5 separate regions of the Homo sapiens genome follow, and regions 1, 2, 4 and 5 are each reported to be linked to region 3. Evidence: microRNA targets listed by miRTarBase, many of them from high-throughput screens and not tested one by one. Region 3 holds a microRNA gene; each other region holds the end of a gene's coding sequence.
The links. Region 3 holds the annotated microRNA hsa-miR-2115-5p (AGCUUCCAUGACUCCUGAUGGA, at 1,637-1,658, shown strand). A microRNA usually pairs through its seed, bases 2 to 8, with sites in the 3' UTR of a target mRNA and lowers its output. Matches are read on the target gene's strand: a 7mer-m8 pairs with bases 2 to 8, a 7mer-A1 pairs with bases 2 to 7 and ends in A, and an 8mer does both.

Region 1: the mRNA of ARRB2 is a reported target of hsa-miR-2115-5p. Seed matches in the 3' UTR shown: 7mer-m8 at 461-467.
Region 2: miRTarBase lists RGP1 as a target of hsa-miR-2115-5p. Seed matches in the 3' UTR shown: 7mer-A1 at 2,353-2,359.
Region 4: the mRNA of PSAT1 is a reported target of hsa-miR-2115-5p. Seed matches in the 3' UTR shown: 8mer at 4,324-4,331.
Region 5: the mRNA of MDC1 is a reported target of hsa-miR-2115-5p. Seed matches in the 3' UTR shown: 7mer-m8 at 927-933 and 8mer at 1,302-1,309.

The regions. Positions count from the first base shown.
Region 1 is chr17:4,720,690-4,725,792 of GRCh38, forward strand. ARRB2 (arrestin beta 2) reads left to right here. Exons shown (of 15, transcript NM_004313.4): 15 at 257-808. The coding sequence ends at 350. Among named protein-coding and RNA genes, the nearest start is that of MED11, 8.2 kb to the right of the region's middle. RefSeq lists a silencer at 5,032-5,103.
Region 2 is chr9:35,752,198-35,757,297 of GRCh38, forward strand. RGP1 (RGP1 partner of RAB6A GEF complex) reads left to right here. Exons shown (of 9, transcript NM_001080496.3): 9 at 454-5,100. The coding sequence ends at 677. MSMP (microseminoprotein, prostate associated) reads right to left here and starts at 2,079. Exons shown (of 3, transcript NM_001044264.3): 1 at 1,803-2,079; 2 at 1,463-1,571; 3 at 793-1,083. The coding sequence starts at 1,932. The coding sequence ends at 903. RefSeq lists an enhancer at 693-1,892 and a silencer at 4,800-5,100.
Region 3 is chr3:48,312,973-48,318,075 of GRCh38, reverse strand. It overlaps MIR2115 (microRNA 2115), which reads left to right and starts at 1,617; the gene lies at 1,617-1,716. The region is part of intron 6 of SPINK8 (serine peptidase inhibitor Kazal type 8 (putative)); the gene reads left to right.
Region 4 is chr9:78,328,520-78,333,622 of GRCh38, reverse strand. PSAT1 (phosphoserine aminotransferase 1) reads right to left here. Exons shown (of 9, transcript NM_058179.4): 9 at 3,530-4,642. The coding sequence ends at 4,537. Among named protein-coding and RNA genes, the nearest start is that of PSAT1, 34 kb to the right of the region's middle.
Region 5 is chr6:30,696,130-30,701,232 of GRCh38, reverse strand. MDC1 (mediator of DNA damage checkpoint 1) reads left to right here. Exons shown (of 15, transcript NM_014641.3): 15 at 601-1,426. The coding sequence ends at 768. It also overlaps the pseudogene RPL7P4. Among named protein-coding and RNA genes, the nearest start is that of MDC1-AS1, 4.4 kb to the left of the region's middle. RefSeq lists an enhancer at 212-713.

The DNA.
Region 1 (5,103 bases), not on the chromosome of region 3:
AACATTCAAATCTGCCCTCATACCTCTTCCTTGCTTTTGGTGGGGAGAAGCGGATTGTAGCATCAAATCAAGATGCCTTAGCCTTGTGAGGCTGCCTCTTGCTGCCTTTTCTTTGTCCCTTCCTGTAAATACCTCTGGTCCCACTGCTGTTCGAACGCCTCTGTCCCAGAGGCCTAGCTTCGGGGAGGGCAGGGAGTGGGAGGCTGGGACAAGAGTCAGAAGCCCTCACCTCACAACCCTCTTTCCCACCACCAAGCTATGCCACAGATGATGACATTGTGTTTGAGGACTTTGCCCGGCTTCGGCTGAAGGGGATGAAGGATGACGACTATGATGATCAACTCTGCTAGGAAGCGGGGTGGGAAGAAGGGAGGGGATGGGGTTGGGAGAGGTGAGGGCAGGATTAAGATCCCCACTGTCAATGGGGGATTGTCCCAGCCCCTCTTCCCTTCCCCTCACCTGGAAGCTTCTTCAACCAATCCCTTCACACTCTCTCCCCCATCCCCCCAAGATACACACTGGACCCTCTCTTGCTGAATGTGGGCATTAATTTTTTGACTGCAGCTCTGCTTCTCCAGCCCCGCCGTGGGTGGCAAGCTGTGTTCATACCTAAATTTTCTGGAAGGGGACAGTGAAAAGAGGAGTGACAGGAGGGAAAGGGGGAGACAAAACTCCTACTCTCAACCTCACACCAACACCTCCCATTATCACTCTCTCTGCCCCCATTCCTTCAAGAGGAGACCCTTTGGGGACAAGGCCGTTTCTTTGTTTCTGAGCATAAAGAAGAAAATAAATCTTTTACTAAGCATGAGTGTGTGTTTTCTCTGTAGTGTTTAGAGAGTGTATGGTGTGCTTATCCATGATTCTGTTAGCTTGTGGGGGAGGACCCAGTCTCTCTTCTGCACCCAAAAGCCACCTGACACGGAGGCTATCAGCAAATGTTTATTGGATGACTGTGCTGTGGCTGTGTTCCAGGGTAAACATCAAAACTTGACTTAGTCCAAACTCAAGGGTGAGGCTTGATAAGGCCACAAAGTGAACTTAGTCATTTCTAGAGGTCACAGTAACTAAACTAACTCGCCTGCACACAGATGCTCACGGGAGCTAGCCAGGGCAGGCCCTTCCCTGTTGCGGCCGACGCACATGACCACCTGTGACCTGTTGTGACCGAGTCGCGTTCATTTCCACTGCTCCTTATGGCTGCTCGAGCCATCTGCTCCTGTGGCTCAGCGGTGCCACAACCGCAGGCCTCACCAGACAAGCCACGTGACGTCTCTGGAGTCTGGTACCTACATTCTAACACAGAAGCTGAGGCTTGGGCAGCAAGAACGTCATGCTGCCGTGGGCCCCTGTCCTAGGGACCACATCTTAGTGCTGTTCATGGGATATTCATCAGGGACTCCCTGAGGCTTGACCGAAGCCCCAGGCTGGGCTGGAGGGAGGTAGCATCACTCCACGAACATTTCTCACCTCCATCATCTGCTTCCACTCCTGAAGCCCAATCTTTCTCCTAAAGCTCCTTCATGCATTCCACAAACAATCTGGATTTGAGTCCCTACAAAGTACCAGGCATAGTATAGCAGTACAACAACAACAACAACAACAAAAACACATTAATTCATTCCCTTTTTTTTTTTTTTCTTTTGAGACAGAGTCTTGCTCTGTCGTCCAGGCTGGAGTGCAATGGTGCCATCTCGGCTCACTGTAACCTCCGCCTCCCAGGTACAAGTGATTCTCCTGCCTCAGCCTCCGGAGTAGCTGGGATTACAGGCGCCCGCCACAACTCCCGGCTAATTTTTGTATTTTTAGTGGAGATGGGGTTTCGCCATGTTGGTCAGGCTGTTCTCAAACTCCTCACCTCAAGTGGTCCACCCGCCTCGGCCTCCCAAAGTGCTGGGATTACAGGTGTGAGCCACCGCGCCAGGCCTCCCTAGTTATTTAACTACAATATCTTTGCTTCAGAGGAGAAGTACTGGAGCCAGGAGAACGCGTGACAGGGAGTTCTGAGCTAGGTTGGGTTTGGGGAAGATTTCCCTGAGAAAGTGACCTTTAAGCAGAGAAGTGAAAGATGAGGGGAGTTCGGGGACCGTCCAGGGATGAGCATTCTGGGCAATGGCAGTGTCGTGTGAAGGCAGGAGGAAACAACACATCTGGGACCTAAAGAGGCCAGAGAGACTGGGACAGAGACAGCCAGAGGCAAAGTAGTTCCTTCTGGCTGCTGAGCCAGATGGGGACAGCTCGCACAGGCCTTTAGTCTATGTTATGACTCGTGACTTCTAGTTAAATCGCCATTTACCCACAAGCTTTAAGTACTGCCAAAAGGCCCGTGACCTTGCTTACCCCGCCACGGCGGCAGCCTCCCCTGCAGAACCTGGACTTTCTCATGCGGAAGAACGGAAGAACCATCCCGCCTAATACCATCTCCAGCATCCCTCCGACTCCCGTGCACCTGCTCCTTGACCTCTAAGCCCAGGTATCTCAATTTTTTTTTTTTTTTTTTTGAGATGGAGTCTTGCTTTCTCACCCAGGCTGGAATGCAATGGTGCTATCTTGGCTCACTGCAACCTCTGCCTCCCAGGTTCAAGCAATTCTTCTGCCTCAGCTTCCCGAGTAACTGGGACTACAGGCACACGCCACCACGCCTGGCTAATTTTTGTATTTTTAGTAAAGACAAGGTTTCGCCATACTGGCCAGGCTGGTCTCGAACTCCTGACCTCCTGATCCGCCCACCTTGGCCCCCCAAAGTGCTGGGATTACAGGCGTGAGCCACCGCGCCTGGCCGATCTCAAATTTTTTTCAGGAGAATCAGAACCCTCGGGGTGCCATGGTAAAAATCCAGAGTTGGGCTCCACCTTTCCCGATTCTGAGTCACAAGGTCCCAAGAAGAATCCAAAAATCCGGATTTTTAATTAGTACACACTTTGAGAAACTGCCCTTTTTATTTATTTAATTAACTTATTTATTATTATCTTTTTTTGAGATGGAGTCTCACTTTGTCACCCAGGCTGGAGTGGAATGGCGCAATCTCAGCTCACTGCAACCTCCGCCTCCCGGGTTCAAGCCGTTCTCCTGCCTCAGCCTCCCGAGTAGCTGGGATTACAGGCACGTGCCACCATGCCTGGCTAATTTTTGTATTTTTATAGAGCCAAGGTCTCGCCATTGCACTCCAGCCTGGGCGACAAGAGCAAAACTCTCTCTCAATAAATAAATAAATAGTCTAATTCAATGGCATTTAGTATACTCACAATGTTGTACAACAATCCCCTCTGTCTACTTCCAAACATTTGGCTTCCTGTATTTTCAATAACAGATAAATTTTTTTAAATTGTCTTTCTTAAGGCCGGGCGCAGTGGCTCACACCTGTGATTTGTAATCCCAGCACTTTGGGAAGCCGAGGCGGGTGGATCGCCTGAGGTCAGGAGTTCGAGAACAGCCTGGCCAACATAGTGACACCCCGTCTCTACTAAAAATACAAAAAATTAGCTGAGCATGGTGGCGGGCGCCAGTAATCCCAGCTACTCGGGAGGCTGAGGCAGGAGAATCACTTGAACCCTGGAGGTGGAGGTTGCAGTGAGCTGAGATTGTGCCACTGCACTCCAGCCTGGGCAACAAGAACAAAACTCCATCTCAGAAAAAAAAAAAAATTCTTTTTGCTTTTTAGGTTCATACACTAGGAAAATTTTTTATATTTATTTTCATGTAGTCAGTTATAATAGCCACACAAAAAAAAAAAAAAAAAAAAAAAAAACAGCTTATGGCCAGGCGCGGTGGCTCATGCCTGTAATCCCAGCACTTTGGGAGGCCGAGGCAGGCGGATCACAAAGTCAGGAGATCGAGACCATCCTGCTAACACGGTGAAACCCCGTCTCTACTAAAAATACAAAAAATTAGCCAGGCGGGGTGGCGGGTGCCTGTAGTCCCAGCTACTCGGGAGGCTGAGCAAGAGAATGGTGTGAACCCGGGAGGTGGAGCTTGCAGTGAGCCGAGATGGTGCCACTGCACTCCAGGCTGGGTGACAGAGCGAGACTCCGTCTCAAAAACAAACAAACAAACAAAAAAACCAGCTGATTGGGTGTTTTGTCACAAAGCTTTTGGCCCTTCTGTTTTCTCACTACTTGACACTTCCTTTTCTTTCCAGCCTATACTTCAAGGTCACCATATCAACCCCTATCTCATCAGCACACTCCACCCTCCATTCACAATCCTGTTCTCAATCCACAGCCTGGATCCATCCAACTATCTCCCTTCTCTGCTCTGAACACAGGGGTTGGTGCTCATACAACCACTTGCTTGTTCATTCAACACATTTTGTTTTTGAGACAGAGTTCTCGCTGTGTCACCCACGCTACAATGCAGTGGCCCAATCTCGACTCACCACAACCTCCGCCTCCCGGGTTCAAGCGATTCTCCTGCCTCAGCCTCCTGAGTAGCTGGGATTACAGGTGCCCGCCACCCCACCTGGCTAATTTTTGTATTTTTTAGTAAAGATGGGGTTTCACCACGTTGGCCAGGCTGGTCTCGAACTCCTGGCCTCATGTGATCCACCTGCCTCAGCCTCCCAAAGTGCTGGGATTACAGGCATCAGCCACCGCGCCTGGCCAACAAACTTTTTTGAACTCATTCTAGGTACCAGACACTAGGTATGAATCTGGGGCTGCTAAAAATATATGGTCTCTAACCCAAGGTGGGCCCCCAACACCCGATAAGCTTTTGTCTCTCTCCATGTCCCTGGTTACCTCCCTCTCCTGCTCCCATCCTATGCACTAATTCTTTTTTTTTTTTTTTTAAGGTGGAGTTTCACTCTTGTTGTCCAGGCTGGAGTACAATGGCACGACCTTGGCTCACTGCAATCTCTGCCTCCCCGGTTCAAGCGATTCTCCCACCTCGGCCTCCCAAGTAGCTGGGATTACAGGCGCCCGCCACCATGCCTGGCTAATTTTTGTATTTTTAGTAGAGACGAGGTTTCACCACGTTGGCCAGGCTGGTCTCAAACTCCTGACCTCAGGTGATCTGCCCGCCTCAGCCTCCCAAAGTGGTAGGATTACAGGCGTGAGCCACCACGCCCAGCTACCTACGCACTAATTTTCTACCTTCCTCATGCTC
Region 2 (5,100 bases), not on the chromosome of region 3:
GCTAAGGGAGGGTGTAATGGATCCTGATTCCTTATACACACTCCCAGACATACCCACGTCTAGCCTCTGACCCGGAACAGTTTCTCAGACCTTCAACCTCTTCCTGTTTCTTAGATGCACTGACCCCTAAACTCCTAACAGCTTGATAGAACTCCTTCCCCACACCTACCTACTAGGACCCTGTGATACACTGATTTTTGATTACTTCATGCTACCTAGACTTGACTGCCTCACTCTTAGGTTATTAGGTACTTAATACTGCTATCTTCAGCTCACATCTGTGGTAGTACCCATTGCTTCAGAAAAACCCTTAATCACAGCTCCCTGCCCTGTGACTTTTCCCTGTCTTCCTGAACACAGATTGTTTTCTTCTCATTCACTAACTATATCCTGTCATTGGCTTTTACTCCTGCTAGCTTCTGATGCTTCTACCTTAATCTTTTTCTTCCATAGTGTCCTTGAAGTGGAGATTGCATTTTGAATTTGTAACGTCCCGAGAACCAGGATTGGTACTCCTACCCCCTGTGGAACAGCCCGAACCTACCACCTGGACAGGACCTGAGCAAGTACCTGTAGACACCTTCAGCTGGGACCTGCCCATCAAGGTGCTGCCTACTAGCCCCACCCTGGCCTCATATGCTGCCCCAGGCCCCAGCACCAGCACCATAACCATCTGAAACTGGCCCACCCTGGTGCTAGTTCCTTCCGGATACTGAGAACTCAGCACCTGGACTCTAATGGGACCCACTTTTTCCACCTGGGGTCCAATGTCGTGGACAGTGAGAGTCGGGCTTTCAGCTATAGCATTAATTTATTTGTTCAGAATACATTGGCAGCTGCTAGTGGTTTCCCTGGAAGTGGCAGCAGCAGTGAGCAGTCAGCAGATGGATGATCAGTTGAGTTTAGCTGGAGTGGGGAGCAGGAGCCCCAGGAACAGGGGTGTTGGCTGAGCCCCATTCTGGGTCAGGCCCTCCCCCTTTGCAGGGCAGCCGAGGGTCAGATTTTTGCACCAAGGAGAACTGGCAGGTTCCTGCCTCCTGACGTACCTCACACCCAGCCGGGAAGTCGATGGGATGCTGGGACCTGGGGAACCAAGGATAGGGGAAGGAGTCAGCACAGTGAAAGGCTGCCTTTATCCCTGCCCACATGTTCCCTCTCTCACAGTTTTCCCCCCACAGAGCCCCTTTCAGTGGCCCCTTGGTCCTCCTAACTAAGCTGTCACCTACCATATGTGGGCCTTTTTGTTTTATAACAGGAGTATTTTCTCTCCAGGTCCACCCCAACCTCCCCTGATTTATAGCCTGAAGCCTTATCTTTCACACTAGTGTTGGTCCCTTCAGGTTTGGCCCATCTTGTATTGCTCTTCTGTTCATTCTTACATCACAGCAATCTAGTCACTCCCTGGTCATCCCTCAGTCACTCATATCAGAGTCATTCTCTCTGGCCATCTTTGGTCACTCACGTGTCACAGCAGCCCACGCCAACAGGATGCAGACAGGTGCAATGGAAACAGTCCTTGCGGAGCCAAGACTCACCCAGGGTAAAATATTTCCCCTCATAGTGACAGGGGGCTAGGGAAGAACGGGAAATGTTAGTAGGTGTAGGAGTGCTGATGAGAGGCAGAGGCTCTTCTGGTCTGGGGTGGAGACAGTAAGTACGCACTATCCCCGTATTTAGTTTGTCTTTCCTGTTTCACAGCTGGAGGAAGCCTGGGTATTTTGACACGGGATCATCTGTAAGGCCCCATCCTCCCTGTGCCCTCTCTGCTGCTCCTCCATTCCTAACGCTTCACCCCACTTTACCTTGAGCTTGGAAGTAGCACTTGCTGTAGACTCCTGGGTGCTGGAGGAGTAGAGACATCACCAAGCAGATGATCCCCCAGCCTCCTAGGATCCCCTTGGCCTGTCCAGCCCAGAGCATCCTTAGGGCCATTGCTGCTGCACAGCCCTCTCAGACCCTTCTTGGCCTCTGCTCAGCTACTCTGGTCTTGACTCCTTGACTTTGCTTTGCGTTGCTCCTTGAGTCTTAGTTTCTGTCTTTCTCCCCTGGGCTCCTGTCTCACACTATCTCCCTGCCCTCTGCTCTCACAGGCTGGGGATGTTTATAAAGTGAGGACCCTGGCCCCCTGCTGAGTAGAGCTGGAAAAGTTGTAACTCTGTTTCCTGAGGTGAGGGCATGAAAACAAGAGGTCTAGCTTTAACAAGCTGTGAGAGCTGATTCATGCCCCGGCACAGCTAGAGGGAGGGAGGTGGCCATGGAGGGGGCACTGGACTGGGCACTTCCCCAGCAAGGAGGCAGGAGGGGCGAGGGCCCCCAGGTGGTCCCCAGATCTCTTCCCTGACCTGGAGAGAAGGAAGCATTCCACCTTCCCCCTTTCTCCCCCACTGCCACCACCAGGGGTGTGTATGCTGGGATCCCTGCCTGGACCGGAGGGAGGCATTTCCTGGGGATGGTTAATCCTGTGCCCCAGCCAAACCCAGGAGCTGCAATAGGGTGCGACGGCCAGAAGCTCCAGGAGAGTGAGCAGGCACCTGGAGTGGAGACTGTGTTTCCCTCAGATCCTAGGGCAGGGTTTCCCTAATGTATCCAAGAAATAGGGCTGCCCCTCAGAGATGGTGGGGAGGGTCTCTTTTCCTCAGGCATTCCAGAGGTGAACTGTCCATTGCTTATCACCTTCAAACATACAGCAGATGTGGGATCACCCCACATCTGGGGATGGTTCTTTCCCCTTTCAAAGAGGAGCATCTCTAAGTGCCCTGATGGGATGAATCACTCCAGGTTCACAGAGGTGTCCTCTCTTTCCTCCCATATATAATGGAGTGAGGTTTTTAGGAATTTATCATTTGGCATCCTCTGAGTTTCCCACAGGTTCTGGAGGAGCCCAGGATGGATTATTGAGAGCATGGGCTGTAGAGACAGTCTTCTTGGATTCAGATCCTGACTCCACTTAGCTATGTAACCTGGTCAGATTACTTCACCTCTCTGAGCCTGTTTCCTCATCTATAAATTGGGGATAGTAATGCCAACTCATTGGGCTGTTATGAGGATTACTGAGATAATGCGTGCAGTGCTCTTATCACCATCTCTGGTGCGTAAGCGTCAGGAAATAGCAGTTGCTGTGATTGGGGCTAAAGCTCTGAGGCAAAATGGGCGACATTATTTTCTTTGAATGACATTAAGCAGTTTGTGCATAGCTGAGGGCTTCTATTGGGGATGGCTGTCTCCTGGCATAGACCTCTGCACCTTTCACACTCATACTCCTTGTCAGCAGTCCCCAACCTTTTTGGTACCAGGGACCGGTTTTGTGGAAAACAATTTTTCCACCAGTGGATGGAGGGGGATAGCAGCGGGGAGATGATTTTGGGATGAAACTGTTTCATCTCAGATCATCAGGCATTAGATTCTCATAAGGAGTGTGCAATCTAGATCCCTTGCATGCGGAGTTCACAGTGGGGTTTGCACTCCTGTGAGAATCTAATGCCTCTGCTGATCTGCCAGGAGGAGGAGCTCAGGCGGTAATGCTCACTCGCCTGCCGCCCACCTCCTGCTTTGTGCTCCCGCTTCCTAACAGGCCACAGACTGGTACTGGCCTGTGGCCTGGGGGATGGAGACCCCTAATCCATGTCACCTTTCCCACCTCTTTCAAAAACAGGTACCTCCAGGAACATTTTGGTTTTGGCCCTTGTATTGACTTCTGAATGTCTAGTTTGAGAAACTGTTCCCAATAAGCCTTCTTCCCCCAGATCTGCACCCTCGCCTCTACCCTAGGACAAGATGTCCTTTTCTCATCATCCTGCCAGGCTAACTTTAAGTCTCCTGCTTTTTCTCACTTGGATTTGGATCCATTTCTTCCTATTTCCGCTCATGTGAACTCTCCAGTTCTCCTTTCTCACCACTCTCCTGCTAGCCATCTCTTTGGCACTAAAGGCCCTGGTCAAATTGGATTTCTTTCATTTTTCCACACTTCAAAGACCCATGTTCTAGGTATTCTCCATAGGGATAGTCTCTTTGGCATTTATTTGGTTTTTCTACGTTTTCAGTCCCATTTACTCCAAGACTCACTCCCTGCCACCTAGTGCATCAGATACAGCTACTTCTGGCTGACTTTTCAAGGGGGACCACCCTACCTGTCATCTCTTCACTGTTCAGAAATGACTGTGTCAGTGCACCTCAAACTCCCTTGCTGTCCTTTTCCAAGGAGACAGCTAAGGTGGATGGAGATGCAGAATGGACCTCACGTTCGCCCTAGTCAGGACTGATACCCTTTCCGTTTCAGAGGATTGCCAAGAAAAAACTCACAGTTGAGGCAGGGTGCTCTGAGGTCGGCTGCGGTGTGGGAGGCACGGCCTGGGCCTGCTCTCTGGGCTGGAGCAGGTGGATTCGAAGGCCTGTCTAGCACGAGGGCCCAAAGGTCTTGTCAGTGGCCAGTAGCTCTGCCGCCTTTCCCAGAGAGGGGGTCCAGGGGACATCCTGGAAGGCTGGGCCCTGGGCCACCTTCTGCTCTTGCAAGCTAGAGCCAGCCCAATAGGGGGCGGATGTGAGTGGGGAGCTGGGGCGCATGAAGGTGGGGGTGATGCCGAAGGGGAAGGGATCGCCAGTGGGGATTGGTGCGTGTGCGGAAACGGGGACAGAAGTGAAGGTTCATCGCCTATAACGAAGATGAGGTAGGCATATAGGGGCTTCTGGAAAGCTAGAGGCTGGGCTGAGCCAGGAGTCCTCTCCCAGAAGTTGGGGGGCGGTGCAGAGGTGTGGGTCGAGCCCGCATGCGTGCCTGCTGGGGAGGGGGTGAGTGGTGAGGACCAGGCCCGCTGGGTCCTGGGGGCGCGGTGGCTGGCGCGCAGGTCCCGGAGGGGGCGGCTGGCGCGCACTACACGCTTGGGAACAAGGAAAACATCCGCCGGAGGCCCGGCCGGGCGGCGCTCCAGCCTCGGGGCAGGTGCGCGGAGAGGAAGTGAGAGCATTCCGGCCCCCCCACCCCAACCCCGGCCGCTGGCCCTCTGGTGAGTCACAGCCGACCCCCGCCGCCGGAGGGAGAGGGGAGCTGCGGGCCAGAGCCCCGGAGGGTCTGGAGGAGCCAGGAGGGTTTCTGGGAGCAGAGGG
Region 3 (5,103 bases):
TACCAACTTAATTACAAAAATTTTAAAAAATATTTTTGCCTGGAGGGGTGGCTCAAGCCTGTAATCCCAACACTTTGGGAAGCTGAGGCAGAAGGATTGCTTGAGCCTAGGGATTTGAGACATGAGCAACATAGCGAGACCCTGACTCTACAAAAAAAAATTAAAAAATTAGCCAGGCATGGTGGCACCTGCCTGTAGTCCTAGCTACTTGGAAGTCAGGATGATTGCTTGAGCCCAGGAGTTCAAGGCTGCAGTGAGCCATGATCGTGCCACTGCACTCTAGCCTGGGCAACAGAGCAAAGTTCTTTTGAGACGGGCAGATCAGGAGGTCAGGAGATAGAGACCATCCTGGCTAACATGGTGAAACCCCATCTCTACTAAAAATACAAAAAATTAGCCAGACGTGGTGGCGGGTGCCTGTAGTCCCAGCTACTCAGGAGGCTCAGGCAGGAGAATGGCATGAACCTGAGAGGTGGAGCTTGCAGTGAGCCAAGATCGCGCCACTGCACTCCAGCCTGGGTGACAAAGTGAGACTCCGTCTCAAATAAATAAATAAATAAATAAATGCTCCTTTTTTTTTATTTTTTGAGATGTAGTTTCACTTTTGTTGCGCATGCTGGAGTGCAATACTGTGGTCTCGGCTCACTGCAACCTCTGCCTCCTGGGTTCAAGTGATTCTCCTGCCTCAGCTTCCCGAGTAGCTGGGATTACAGGCGCACACCAACACACCTAGCTAATTTTTGTATTTTTGTAGAGATGGGGTTTCACCATGTTGGCCAGGCTGGTCTCAAACTCCTAACCTCAGGTGATCAGCCTGCCTCGGCCTCCCAAAGTGCTGGGATTACAGGCATGAGCCACTACACCCAGCCAAAAAATGCTGTTCTTAAATAGCTCCATTCTCCCCATCCTTCTTTGAACTGTTTTTGTTATACAAATTACAGCTTTATTCATTGTACACCCATTCACACAGATTTATAATTGTTTTATGCAGTTGCCTCTTAGGAGAGAAAGATTTACAAACAAAAATATGTTTATACTGTCTATTATTTTCCTATATAGTTACTTTAACTGGCTCTTTATTTCTTCACATGAATTCAAGTTTCTGCTTATGATCCTTTCATTTTAGCCTGAAGGACTATTTAGTATTTTGTAGGTCTGCTAGCAACAAATTGCCTCAATTCTTCTTTATCTAGACATATCTTAATTTCACCTTTCTTTCTGAAGAATAGTTTGGTGGGCATAGAATTCTTGGTTGACTGTCATTTTCTTTTTTTATTTTTCTTTTATTTATTCATTTATTTATGAGACCAGGTCTCACTCTGTCACCCAGGTTGGAGTGCAGTGGCATGATTGTGGCTCACTGCAGCCTCGACCTCCTGGGCTCAAGTGATCCTCCCACCTCAGCCTTCTGAGTAGCTAGGACTACAGGCACACCCCACCATGTTCAGCTAAATTTGTTTTTGTATTTTTGGTAGAGACAGGTTTTCACCATGTTGCCCAGGCTGGTCTTGAACTCCTGAGCTCAAGCAGTCCACCCTCCTCCACCTCCCAAAGTGCTGGGATTATAGGTGTGAGCCACCGTGCCTGGCCACCTCTCATTTTCTTTCAGCATTTTGACTGTCATCCCACTGCTTCCAGCTTCCATGACTCCTGATGGAGGAATCACATGAATTCATCAGAATTCATGGAGGCTAGAAGCAGTATGAGGATCATTTACATGTGATATTCACTTCTCCCTTTCTGCTTTTTGGATTCTCTCTTTGCCTTTGTCTTTTGGCAATTTTATAATGATTTGTCTATGTGTGGCTCTATTAGAATGCATCCTATTGTAAGTTTTTTGAACTTACTGGATGAAGTTTTTCATCAAACTTGGGGAATTTCAGCCATTATTTTTCCAAGTATTCTCCTCTCCTTGAGGGATTCCCTTTATGTATATGTTGATGCCCTTGACAGTGTCCCACACTTCTCTGTGGCTATATTCATTTTTTTCCCAATTTGAATTGAGTTTTATCTTATTGGTTATGTGAGGCATTTTAACCCATTTTGTTCTTTTTTCTTCATAATTATTTTTCTTTCTTTTCCTCAAACTGGTTACTATTCATTGGTCTATCTTCAAGCACATTTGACTCTTTCTTCTGTCTGCTCAAATCTTATATGAGCCCCTCCAGGGAATTTTTCATTCTAGGTCATTGTAATTTTCAACTTTAGAATTTTTATTCAGGTTCTTGGAAAATTTTTTCTGTCTCTTTATTGATATTCGCTATTTGGTGAGACATCATTCTCATACTTGCCTTTAGTTCTTTGTTCTTTACATACAGTTTCCTTCAGTTCTTTTTTTTTTTTTTTTTTTTTTTTGAGATGGAGTCTTACTCTGTTACCCAGGCTGGAGTGCAGTGGCATGATCTCGGCTCACTGCAACCTCTGCCTCCTGGATTCAAGCAACTATCCTATCTCAGCCTCCCAAGTAGCTGGGATTACAGGCTTGTGCCATCAAGCCCCACTAATTTTTGTAGTTTTAGTAAAGACAGGATTTCACCATGTTGGTCAGGCTGGTCTTGAACTCCTGACCACAAGTGATCCACCTGCCTCAGCCTCCCAAAGTGTTAGGATTACAGGAGTGAGCCACCACACCCGGCCCAGTTCTTTAAACATAAGTAAAATAGCTGATTTAAAATGTCTTGTAAGTCCAACATCTGGGCTTCCTCAGTGACAGATTCCATTGACTGACTTTTATCCTATATGCGAGCCATACTTTCTTTTCCTTTGTACGTGCCATGACTATTTTGTTGAAAATTGAATATTTTGAATAATATAATGTGGCAACTCTGGAAATCAGATTCTCACCTCTATCCAAGGTTTGTTGCTGTTATTTGTTGTTGTTGCCATGTGTTAGTTTAGTGACTTCTGAAATAATCCTGTAAAGTATGCATTTTTTGTCATGTATGGCCATTGATCTGGTCCTACTCATTATCTTATTATCAGCTAATGATTGGAAAAAAATTTCCTTAAATGGCTGGAACCAATAAATCTCCCAGTCTTTGACAACAAAAACTTTGTGTGTGCACTGAGGCATGTCTCTACTCAACCAGGCAGTTTAAAGCTACACTTTAGTGGTCACTGGATGTTTGCACAGACCCACAAGATTAGTTAGAGATGAGATGTTGGGACTTTCTCTGGTCTTTTCTGAGCATGCAGAAAGCCTTACACTGGCTGCAAGGCCTTCTGTATTTCCAGTAACATGTTAGAGCTTTTCAAAACCTCCTATGGACATCTCATTGCCTAACTTACTTTTAAGCTCTTGGTTAACCTATTGTTTTTCACAACTGTTACACACTGTGCAGCAGCCATGATGTTAAACAGTTGCCTCTGATTGTTTTCAACAAATTTTCCCAGGGAAAAGGCTGTTTGCACCAAGAGAGGTTTGAGTATGGTCAAATAAAAGCTTTGCAAATGGGTCTTTCAGAGAACCACCCAGACAGGTCAAATAATGACAATTCTCTGGTAATGGTGCATTGAAGGCATTCCAACACCAGTCTTCTCCCTCCAGATGCTGCCAGGCTGCTGGTTTTCACTATGATTGTGGGTGGTTGTTTTTCATTACTACCATGGAACTGGGAATGCTGCAGATGGGTCCAGAGCAAGATAAAATGCCATGAAACTCACTATTCTTACTGAGAAGCAGCAATTTTTCTTCAATAGATGTTCCTTGGATTGCTGCATGGTTTGATTTTTTTTTTTTTAATTCCCAGAATTCTGGAAAACTTGATTCTGACCATTTTTGCCAGTGTTCTTGTTGCTTTCGTGGAGGAAATTTTAAAGATTCTTACTTCTCCATTTTCACTGTCCAAGCAAAAGGGCTCACTTTTGAATGAAGACACTGAGACCTGAGGGGAGCAACTTATCAAAGTTCTTATAACTATAAATGGGTGCAAATGCATATTTTTAAAGATTGAGGTAAAATTCATATGACATAAAATGAACCATTTTAAAGTGAACAAATTGGTAGCATTTAGTACATTTACAATGTTATAAAACTGCCACCTTTATTACTTTCAAAACATTTTTGTCACTCCAGAATAAAACCTCATGTCCATTAAGCAGTTAACTTCCCATTCCCTCCTCCCCACAGTTCCTGGCAACTAGCAATAGACTTTCTGTTTTTACAGATTTACTATTCTGTATATTTCACATAACTGGAATTATACAACCTATGATCTTTTGTGTCTGGCTTCTTTCACTTACATAATCATTTTGAGGTTCATCCACAGTGTGGCATATATCTTCATTTCTTTTTGTATTACTGAATAGTTTTCCATTATGTGTATATACCACAATTTTTTTATTTATTCATTGAAGGAAATTTGGGTTGTTTCCATGTCTAACTATTGTGAAGAGTGCTCTTATAGACATTTGTGTACAAGTATTTATTTGAGTACCTGTTTTCAGCCTTCTGGTTATATACCTAGGGGTGGAATTTGCTGAGTTATATGGTAATTCTGTGTTTAACTTTTTGAGGAACCATCAAACTTTTCTATAGGGGCTGAACCATTTTACATTCTTCCAGAAATATGAGAGTTCCAATTTCTTCACATCCTTGCTAGTACTTTTTAAAAATATTATTATATCCATCCTTGTGGGTGTGAAAATGGTATCTCATCAAGTTTTCATTTACATTTCTCTAATGACTAATGAGGTTGGACATCTTCTTATGTACTTTTTGGCTATCCATATACTTTTTTGGAGAAATATCTACTCAAGTCCTTTGCCCATTTTTAAAAATTGTGTTGTCTTTATGTTTTAGTTGTAAGAATTCTTTATATATTTTGAATACTAAATACTATGATTTTCAAATATTTCTCCCCCGATTCTATAGGTTGCCTTTTACTTTCATGATAATGTCCTTTGATGCACAAAGTTTTTAATTTTGATGACATCAATTTATCTATTTTTTCTTTTGTTGTTCTTACGTTTGCTATTACACCCAAAAAACCACTGTAAAATCCAAAGGCATAAAGATTTACCTCTAATTTTTCTTCTAAGAGTTTAGTAGTTTTAGCCCATTGATCTTTTTTTTTTTTTGAGACAGAGTCTGACTCTGTTCCC
Region 4 (5,103 bases), not on the chromosome of region 3:
ATCAAATGTGAAAAAATTCTTCCTCGTTTTATTTTCCTTCCAAAGAACGTGATACAACAAACATTAATCATGGAGGGCAAGGCCAGACCTGATAATGCCTTTGGTAGAATTGGACAACATCTAATGTTTTGTCCATTTTTATGTGTCTTCAGCTTGTAGAGCCCCTTCAGCTCTAAGAGGAGGGAGGAGGGACTACTTCTTTGTTACCTCACATAATTCACTTAAGTGCATGCCAAACCTGCCAGCTTCAGGTAAGTTATGATGAGACAGCATTAGGCATTTCAATCAATGGGCTCTAGCAGGGGATTTAGGCCTTAGGGACAGAACATGATTTTATTTCTCATGCAAAGAACAGAATTGTAGTATTGGAGACAAAGCAGGGCATAGAGGTAAACACAAGGAACACAAGAAAAAAATTTGGTTTTTCTTGGTTGTATGGCATTATAATGATTACATGTTGTAAATAATTGTATTTTATTTAATTAATTTATTTTTTTTGAGACAGAGTTTTGCTCTTGTTGCTCAGGCTAGAGTGTAATGGCACAATCTTGACTCACTGCAACCTCTGCCTCCCAAGTTCAAGTGATTCTCCTGTCTCAGCCTCCTGAGTAGCTGGGATTATAGGCATGTGCCACCACACCCAACTGATTTTGTATTTTTAGTAGAGACGGGGTTTCACCATGTTGGTCAGGCTGGTCTCGAACTCCTGACCTCAGGTGATCCGCCCACCTCAGCCTCCCAAAGTGCTGGGATTACAGGCATGGGCCACTGCACCCGGCCTTAACCAATTTTAAAAGAAAAAAAAAAGTTCCAAGTTCCATTTGGGGAAGAAGTACAATTTAGAGGCTCCAAAGGAATATGAGGCAGCCCCTCTCCCAGCCTCTGCAAGGCTGCAAAGACACCTGTCAATCTACCTTGCTTTCCATTTTAATCTTCAAGGAAAGACCAACCAGTTCTGACTCCTGCAGCTTGCTGACCCAGAAGCCTGTATCTTTATCTCCCCTTTTCACCCCTCTCTGCGTGATCAGCAGGTTGGCATCAGTTCATTCCCTCGAGACATACAAAGGTCAAGTTTTTTGCTCTGATGAATATTTTCCAGCAATATCTATTCCAGAACCTCCCTGTTTGGCCAGACACCAGTGATTACCCCTTGTCCGTATGTGGTAGTTAACCATTTTCCAAAAGCTTTCAGATTTATAAAGATGGTTCTGGGGGAACTCACAAGACACTAAATTTCCTCATTCAACCACAGAATCATATTTGACCATTTTAGTAGAAAACGAAATTGGATACTAAGCTCTTGAAAAAATATATATATTAAAAGTCCACGTATGTGGTGGTGGCTCATGCCTGTAATCACAGCACTTTGGGAGCACAAGGCAGGTGGATCACTTGAGGTCAGGAGTTCGAGACCAGCCTGGCCAACATGGTAAAACCCTGTCTCTACTAGAAATATAAAAGTTAGCCAGGCGTGGTGGCAAGTGCCTGTAATCCTAGCTACTTGGGAGGCTGAGGCAGGAGAATCACTTGAGCCTAGGAGGCAGAGGTTGCAGTGAGCCAAGATCACACCACTGTACTCTAGCCTGCACAACAGAGACAGACTCCATCAAAAAAAACAAAAGGTCCATGTTATGTGACAGATCATACCTCTCTGCCTTTACTCCAAGCTCAGTTTATGGTACTCAGAAAGACCAACGTGACCTACATTAAGATTTTTCATTCAGCCAGACGCAGTGGCTCTTGCCTGCAATCCCAGCACTTTGGGAGGCCAAGACAAAAGGATCACTTGCAGCCAGGAATTCAAGACTAGTCTGGGCAACATAGCGAGACCCTGTCTCTACAAAAAAATTTAAAAAGTTAGCCAGGCACAGTAACATACACCTGTAGTCCTAGCTACTGGGGAGGCTGAGGCAGGAGGATAACTTCAGCCTAGGAGGTCGAAGCTGCAGTGAGCTAGTATCACGCCACTGTACTCCAGTCTGGGTGACAAAGCGAGACCCTGTGTCTAAAAAGAACAGACTTCACTGGGCACCTCGAAGGGCAAGGCAGGACACTAGGTGCTTGAGGTAGAGAACCATCGTTCTTTCCATGCTGCTGTATGGGGAAGGCACATATGCAGCCACCTTGGCATAGTAAAGAACAAAACAGAGATGGTATAATGGGAGAAAAGGATCCCCCTGGTGAAAACAAAGGAAAAGAACATTGTCCCAATGGAAAGGACACAAATGAGTTTAGGAAGAGGTTGGCGGGTGTCATCTGGTCTTCCTGAGTGGGCACAGAAACTCCAGGCTTATGTCATAGTGTGGGCAAATGCATGCCACTTTCCAAGAATCACAAATGCAGGAGAGGTGCAAGAGGCCATGTCCCATGCTACAAAGTCCTGACTGCCAGGCTGGGAGTACTGGACTTTGTATGCATCAACAAAGAGCACAAGGGGAAGTCATAGTTCAACTGGCTGTGGTGGGAGGGGAATATGGGGGCAGAGAAGAGACTGCTGAATAATCCACTGAGGGCTGACATAGCAGAGCTGACATGGCAATGGAATGAAAATTAGCAGATATTTGAGAAGCACAGGTCTGATACAGATGACAGGGATGTGCAACCACATATGAAAGGGTGAGGAAGGAGGGGAGGCTGACTCTGAGCATGACTTTTATGTGTGAACACTTAGTTGGAATCCATGGACTGCCTGGCTTTTGCTACTTAAAACTTCATTGTGGTTATTATTCACATCCTGCATCGAGCCCTTGTTTTAAACTTTTAAACATCCTTAAGGTAAGTGGTGGGGGAGTTATTTCAACCCTCCTGTTACAGATGACAGAACCAAGCCTTGGAGCCTGTGACCTGAACAGGGGAGCCAACTAACCAGTGCAGAGATGGGACAAGACACTGGTGGAGTCCTCATTATGCAATCAAATAAACCAGGAAGATAGCTCAAAACAGTCCTAGTGGCATGTTTCTGGGGCAAATGGGACAAAGCTCATAGAACTTTACACCTTCAGAGCTGGGCACGGTGGCTCACGCCTGTAATCCCAGCACTTTGGGAGGCTGAGGTGGGCGGATCACCTAAGGTCGGGAGTTCGAGACCAGCCTGACCAACATGGTGAAACCCCGTCTCTACTAAAAATACAAAAATTAGCCATGCATGGTGGCTGGCACCTGTAGTCCCAGCTACACGGGAGGCTGAGGCAGGAGAATTGCTTGAACCTGGGAGGGGAGGTTTCAGTGAGTCGAGATTGCGCCACCACACTCTCCAGCCTGGGCGACAAAGCGAGCCTCCATCTAAAAAAAAAGAACTTTACACCTTCAGCTGCAATGGAAGGTGGTTTGCTGATAATGCCCATTCCAAAAGCAAATGGAAAGCTCCCACACCGTGTTGAATTTTTTTAAATGGATGCACAAGAATTAAGTCTTAGATCTTTGGTTGAACTAAATTACCCTTAGCAGGTGCTATTTTTAGACCTCAAGCTTTCCCATCATAAAGAACAATTTGTCTAAAAAGCAGGTAGAGAAATTCATTGACAAGGGCTTAGATGTTTTAGGACTTTAATGTTCTTTACATATTCAACATAAAATACTGACAATAGATAAACAATAGGGGAAAGACTTTTCAGCAAAGTATCACTCTCGTAGTCATACATTACAAAGAAAACAGTAGAGAACAAAGGATAGGGTAATTTAACAGAAATGTTTAGTTTAATGGCATAATTGAAAAACAACCAACCAATCAACTTTCTCTTCTACCTATGGAAAGAATGGTAAAAATGAATCAAGAACTTCTAGGTCTTTTTCATAAAACAGCTTAAAAAGAGGAAGGCGAAGACTGGGGAGGGGGTACAACTCTTGCTAATGGAATGCTATAATGCACAAGGTCAAGGATTTAATAAATTCTAAAAGTGTCTACATATATCAGTGATAACTGTATTATTAGAAATATAAATGTATAGAAATATAAAGTATATGGTATTAAAAACAGACCTTGCTAATATAAACATATATAAAGTATGTCACTTCTCCTGTAATAACAGCATAAAGATCGATCTACAGTTTGCCCTTCGCCTGGCACTCTTAAACCACTCCTCCAATGGTCAATGTTGACCTTGAATCAACAGCCGCTGAACCCAGGAGACCCCACAGATGTGTAGATTCAGCACCTAGAGGGCCCCCCTACCCTCTGTGCTGTGTGTTCCCATGACTCCAGAAATAATTAATCGCAACTTGCATTATTAAGTCCACAGGCAAGTTTGAAATCTAACTAGAAAAAGTAGCAGCAAAGGCAAAATACGCGGGAATTTGTTAGAAAAGCAACAAGATTTCTTAAAATGCTTCCAGTTCAAGTCAGAATTAAGGTGACATTAGGTCCCACCAGCTTTACAGAGTTGTGGATGTTTTGCTGTTGTTCTTTCAAAAAAGAAGAATCTGCAATAAACATGTTCATTTGAGAAAAATACTGTGTTAACTTTTTGTAGCCATCCCCAAGTTACTTTAAACTTTGTATGTTGTTCAAGAACAGAGTATATCCTGGTTAGGATGTGTTCATAGCTGATGCATCTCCAAAAATTTTTTCATGAAGGCGGCCAGCTTCTGAACGTCTTCAATTGTGACAGCATTATACAGAGAGGCCCGGATGCCTCCCACAGACCTAGAATGACCAAAGATCCAGGCATTGAGAACAAAAACGTCTAATTTCGCATCAAAACACCTTTTTCTAGCCACTGGCTCCTGAGAGTTGCAGCACCTGAGACCATCATTTCCGGTCTCCTACCTAAAAACTCCCGACACCTGGCACAGAGCTTCACACGTCTCAGTCATCAGAAAATTCTCCCTTAAGCTGTGAAGGTTCACCATGCTCACATTTAGAGTCATTCGAACTATTCACTCTTGGCAAAGAAAGCAAGCAAGATGTGGGGAAGAAAAGGTAAGTTGGAAGAAGATAGCGATTCTGTTCAACATTCATGAGCCTGTCGTGACAGTGCCAGCAAGATCGGGGCTGGGCTATTCTCATGTGAGGACATTCCCTGCTGCTATTCTCATGTGAGGACATTTATTTTTCATAGAGCATGCAAGACTAGCTACTAATTTGATGTTCAGTTGGAATAATAA
Region 5 (5,103 bases), not on the chromosome of region 3:
GACGGGGTTTCACCATGTTGGCCAGGATGGTCTCGATCTCTTGACCTCGTGATCCACCCACCTCGGCCTCCCAAAGTGCTGGGATTATAGGCGTGAGCCACTGTGCCTGGCCTCTAGCAAGAGTATTTCTTTTTTTTTTTTCTTTTTTTTTTTCTTTTGAGATGGAGTCTTGCTCTGTAGCCCAGGCTGGAGTGCAGTGGCGCGATCTCGGCTCACTGCAAGCTCCGCCTCCTGGGTTTTCACGCCATTCTCCTGCCCCAGCCTCCCGAGTAGCTGGGACGACAGGCACCCGTCAGCGCGCCCGGCTAATTTTTTTTTTTTTTTTTTTTTGTATTTTTAGTAGAGACAGGGTTTCACCGTGGTCTTGATCTCCTGACCTCGTGATCCACCCGCCTCAGCCTCCCAAAGTGCTGTGTAATTACAGGCATGAGCCACTGCGCCCGGCCTAGCAAGAGTATTTCATAGACAGTATGCGGTGTGCTTCACTTGGCTTCATATTAGGAGGTATTATTTTAGTGATGGTAAGACTGGTTAGTGGGTCCTGAACCCATTTCTAGGATTCTTTTTCACCTGATTTTGCCTTTGCTCTGTCTTCCCCAGCCTCAGAGAGTTGTGATCACATGCCCTCAGGACTTCCCTCATTGCTCCATTCCACTACGGGTTGGGCTGCCCCTCCTCTCGCCTGAGTTCCTGCTGACTGGAGTGCTGAAGCAGGAAGCCAAGCCAGAGGCCTTTGTCCTCTCCCCTTTGGAGATGTCATCCACCTGAGAACTCCACTACCCTTTTCCCTCCCAGACCACGAATTAGAAGATATGTGGAAGAAAGAACTCAGGGCGTTAGAAAGGATTGGGGTATATTGATACAACTTGTCCTGGAACATGGGTGGGACCAGAAATCTTTATGAATAAATGAAAAGATAAGGGATTTGGAAGCCACAGGTTGTTTTTTGTTTGTTTGTTTGTTTTTTTAATGGCCATTTTATTTTATTTGTATTTATAGTTTTTTATTTGTATAGATTTAGGGGATACAAGATTTCTTACATGCATGTATTAAATGGCCATTTTAAAATTAGCTAGTTTCATGCTCAGATGTCATAAGTGGCAGCTATCTTTAGCCAGACTGTTGCAGTTATTGCTCGATGCCACTCATGGTGTCCTACCTCCTATTTGGAAACCATCTCTATTTTTTTCTTACTGAGATTCTTACTTTGGGGTCAGGAACTTGAAGGGATGCTTGGAGTGAGTAGATTTGAGGGTCCAGTTATGGAGTGCTACTAAAACATTTTCTTCTCTCCTGGCCTCTGGAAGCATCTTTAGCTTTGACTTTGGGCAAGTCTCTGTACTTTTCTGGCCAGCTTTTCCAGGATTTATAAAATTAGAGCTTCGGCTTGACCTCTGTGATAAATAAATATTCACTCTGTGCCTTATGGTGTAGTGTAGTTTTTTAAAATGTCTAGGTCTCAAGACACAAACTTAAAAAAAAAAAAGTCATAGACTTGTATTTAATTCATCATTATCTTCTATTTAGGACAATTTGTATGACATTTCTTAAGATTTTTTTTTTTTTCTTGAGACAGGGTCTCATCTCTGTCACCTAGGCTGGAGTGCAGTGGCACCATCTTGGCTCACTGCAACCTCCACCTCCCAGTTCAAGCAATAGTCCCACCTCAGCCTCCTGAGTAGCTAGGACTGCAGGCACACACCACCATGCCTGGCTAATTTTCTTTTTTTTATTGTTTAGTAGAGACGGGGCTCTACTAAATTTTTGTATTTTTGGTAGAGATGAGGTTTTGTCATGTTGCCCAGGCTGGTCTCTAACTTCTGACCTCAAGTGATCCACCCACCTCAGCCTCCCGAGTAGCTGGGATTACAGGCACATGCCACCACACCCGGCTAATTTTTGTATTTGTAGTAGAGACGGGGTTTCACCATGTTGGCCATGCTGGTCTCGAACTCCTGACCTCAGGTGATCCACCTGTCTTGACTTCCCAAAGTGCTGGGATAACAGGCATGAGCCGCCATGACTGGCCTTTTATCTTTTTGAGTCAAGGTGTCACTCTGTTGCCCAGGCTGAAGTGCAGTGGCTCGATGTCGGCTTACTGCAGCCTTGACCTCCTGGGCTCAAACGATTTTCCTCTCAGCCTCCCAAGTAGCTGGGACCATAGGTGTGTGCAACCATGCCCGATGAATTTTGTATTTTTGGTAGAGACGAGGTTTTGTCATGTTGCCCAAGCTGGTCTCTAACTCGTGACCTCAAGTGAGCCACCCACCTCAGCCTCCAAAAGTGCTGGGATTACAGGCTTGAGCCACCGTGCCCAGCCAGATTTAAATTTTAAAAGTTGGTTGATTACAAGGATGTGGAGAAATTAGAATCCTTATACATTGCTGGTAGGAATGTTAAATGGTTCAGCCTCTGTGGTAAACAGTTTGATGGTTCCTCAAAAAGTTAAACATATGGATGGGCACAGTGGCTCACACATGTAATCCCAGCACTTTGGAGGCCAAGGCTGGCAGATCACTTGAGCTCAGAAGTTCACGGCCAGCCGGGCAACATGACAAAACCTCGTCTCTACCAAAAATACAAAAATTCACTGGGCATGGTGGCACACACCTATGGTCCCAGCTACTTGGGAGGCTAAGAGGAAAATCGTTTGAGCCCAGGAGGTCAAGGCTGCAGTGGGTGGACACGAGCCACTGCACTTCAGCCTGGGCAACAGAGTGAGACCTTGTCTCAAAAAAATAAAAGGCCAGTCACGGCAGCTCATGCCTGTAATCCCAGCACTTTGGGAAGTCAAGACAGGTGGATCACCTGAGGTCAGGAGTTAGAGACCAGCCTGGCCAACATGGTGAAATCCCGTCTCTACTTAAAATACAAAAATTAGCCGGGCGTGGTGGCATGTGCCTGCAATCCCAGCTACTTGGGAGGCTGAGGCAGAAGAATTGCTGGAACCCGGGAAGTGGAGGTTGCAGTGAGCTGAGATCGTGCCACTGCACTCCAGCCTGGGCAACAGAACAAGACTCCATCTAAAAAAAAAAAGGCCAGGCGTGGTGGCTCACCCCTGTAATCCTAGCACTTTGGGAGGCCAAGGTGGGCAGATCACAAGATCAGGAGATTGAGACCATCCTGGCTAACATGGAGAAACCCCGTCTCTACTAAAAATACAAAAAATTAGCTAGGCGTGGTGGCAGGCGCCTGTAGTCCTAGCTACTCGGGAGGCTGAGGCAGGAGAATCGCTTGAACCCGGGAGGTGGAGGTTGCAGTGAGCCAAGACTGCTCCACTGTACTCCAGCCTGGCGACAGAGCGAGACTCCCTCTCAAAAAAAAAACAAAAAAAAAAAAGTAGCCTCTTTTCTGGCTGGAACCCTCATGTAGAGTGTTGTAGATAAGAAGGAGAGGGCCGGGGTGCAGTGGCTCACACCTGTAATCCCAACACTTTGGGAGGCCGAGGTGGGCAGGTCACCTGAGGTCAGGAGTTCAAGACCAGGCTGGCCAACATGACAAAACCCCGTCTCTACTAAAAATTCAAAACAAAATTAGCCGGGCATGGTGGCCAGCCCCTGTGATCCCAGCTACTCAGGAGGCTGAGGCAGGAGAATTGCTTGAATGCAGGAGGGGGAGGTTGCATTGAGTCGAGATCGCACCATTGCACTCCAGCATGGGAGACAGAGCAAGACCCCGTCTTAAAAAAAAAAAGAGAGAGAAAAAGAAGGAGGTTCTTGCTATGCCAGAAACCCTTAAAAAGCGAAGGAATTTCCCAGAGCTGAAGATCAAAGGCCCGAGAAAGAAATTTGCCCAAAAGATGATTCAAAAGGCAAGGAGGAAGCTTATCTATGAAAAAGTGAAGCACTATCACAAGGAATATAGGCAGATGTACAGAACTGAAATTCGAATGGCTAGGATGGCCAGAAAAGCTGGCAACTTCTATGTACCTGCAAAACCCAAATTGCCGTTTGTCATCAGGATCAGAGGTATCAGTGGTGTGAACCCAAAGGTCCGAAAGGTGTTGCAGCTTCTTCGCCTTTGTTAAATCTTCAGTGGAACCTTTGTGAAGCTCAACAAGGCTTCAATGAACATGCTGAGGATTGTAGAACCATATATGGCATGGGGGTACCCAAAGCTGAAGTCAGTAAATGAACTAATCTACCAGCATGGTTATGGCAAAAATCAATAAGAAGCAAATTGCTTTGACAGATGACACTTTGATTGCTTTATCTCTTGGTAAATATGGCATCACCTGCATGGAGGATCTGATTCTTGAGATCTATACTGTTGGAAAATGCTTCAAAGAAGCAAATAACTTCCTGTAGCCCTTCAAATTATCCTCTCCACAAGGTAGAGTAAAGAAAAAGACCACCCATTTTGTAGAAAGTGGACATGCTGGCAACAGGGAGAACCGGATCAACAGACTTATTAGAAGAATGAGCTAAGGTGTCTACTGTGATTGTTTTTCTAATCTAAGCACTTAAGCAGTACCTGCTCTCAAATTGGAGGAAAAAAAAGAAAGTTAAATACGGAATTACCGAACAGTCCAGCAATTCTGCTCCTAGGTGTACACCCAAAAGAATTTAAATCAGGTGTCCAGGCTGGGTGGGGTGGCTTATGCCTATAATCCCAGCAGTTTGGGAGGCCAAAGTGGGAGGATTGCATGAGCCCAGGACTTCACGGGCAACCAGTCTGGGCAACATGGCAAAACCCTGTCACTACAAAAAATACAAAAATGGGCTAGGTGCGGTGGCTCACGCCTATAATCCTAGCACTTTGGGAGGCAAGGTGGGTAGATCACCTGAGGTCAGGAGTTCAAGACGAGCCTGGCCAACATGGCAAAACCCCATCTCTACTAAAAAATACAAAAATTAGCCGGGTGTGGTGGCTCATGCCTGTAATCCCAGCATTTTGGGAGGCCGAAGGTGGTTGGATCACCTGAGGTCAGGAGTTCGATACCAGCCTGACCAACATGGAGAAACCCGTCTCTACTAAAAAATACAAAATTAGCTGGGCGTGGTGGTGCATGCCGGTAATCCCAGCTACTCCGGAGGCTGAGGCAGGAGAATCACTTGAACCTGGGAGGTGGAGATTGTGGTGAGCCAAGATCATGCCGTTGCA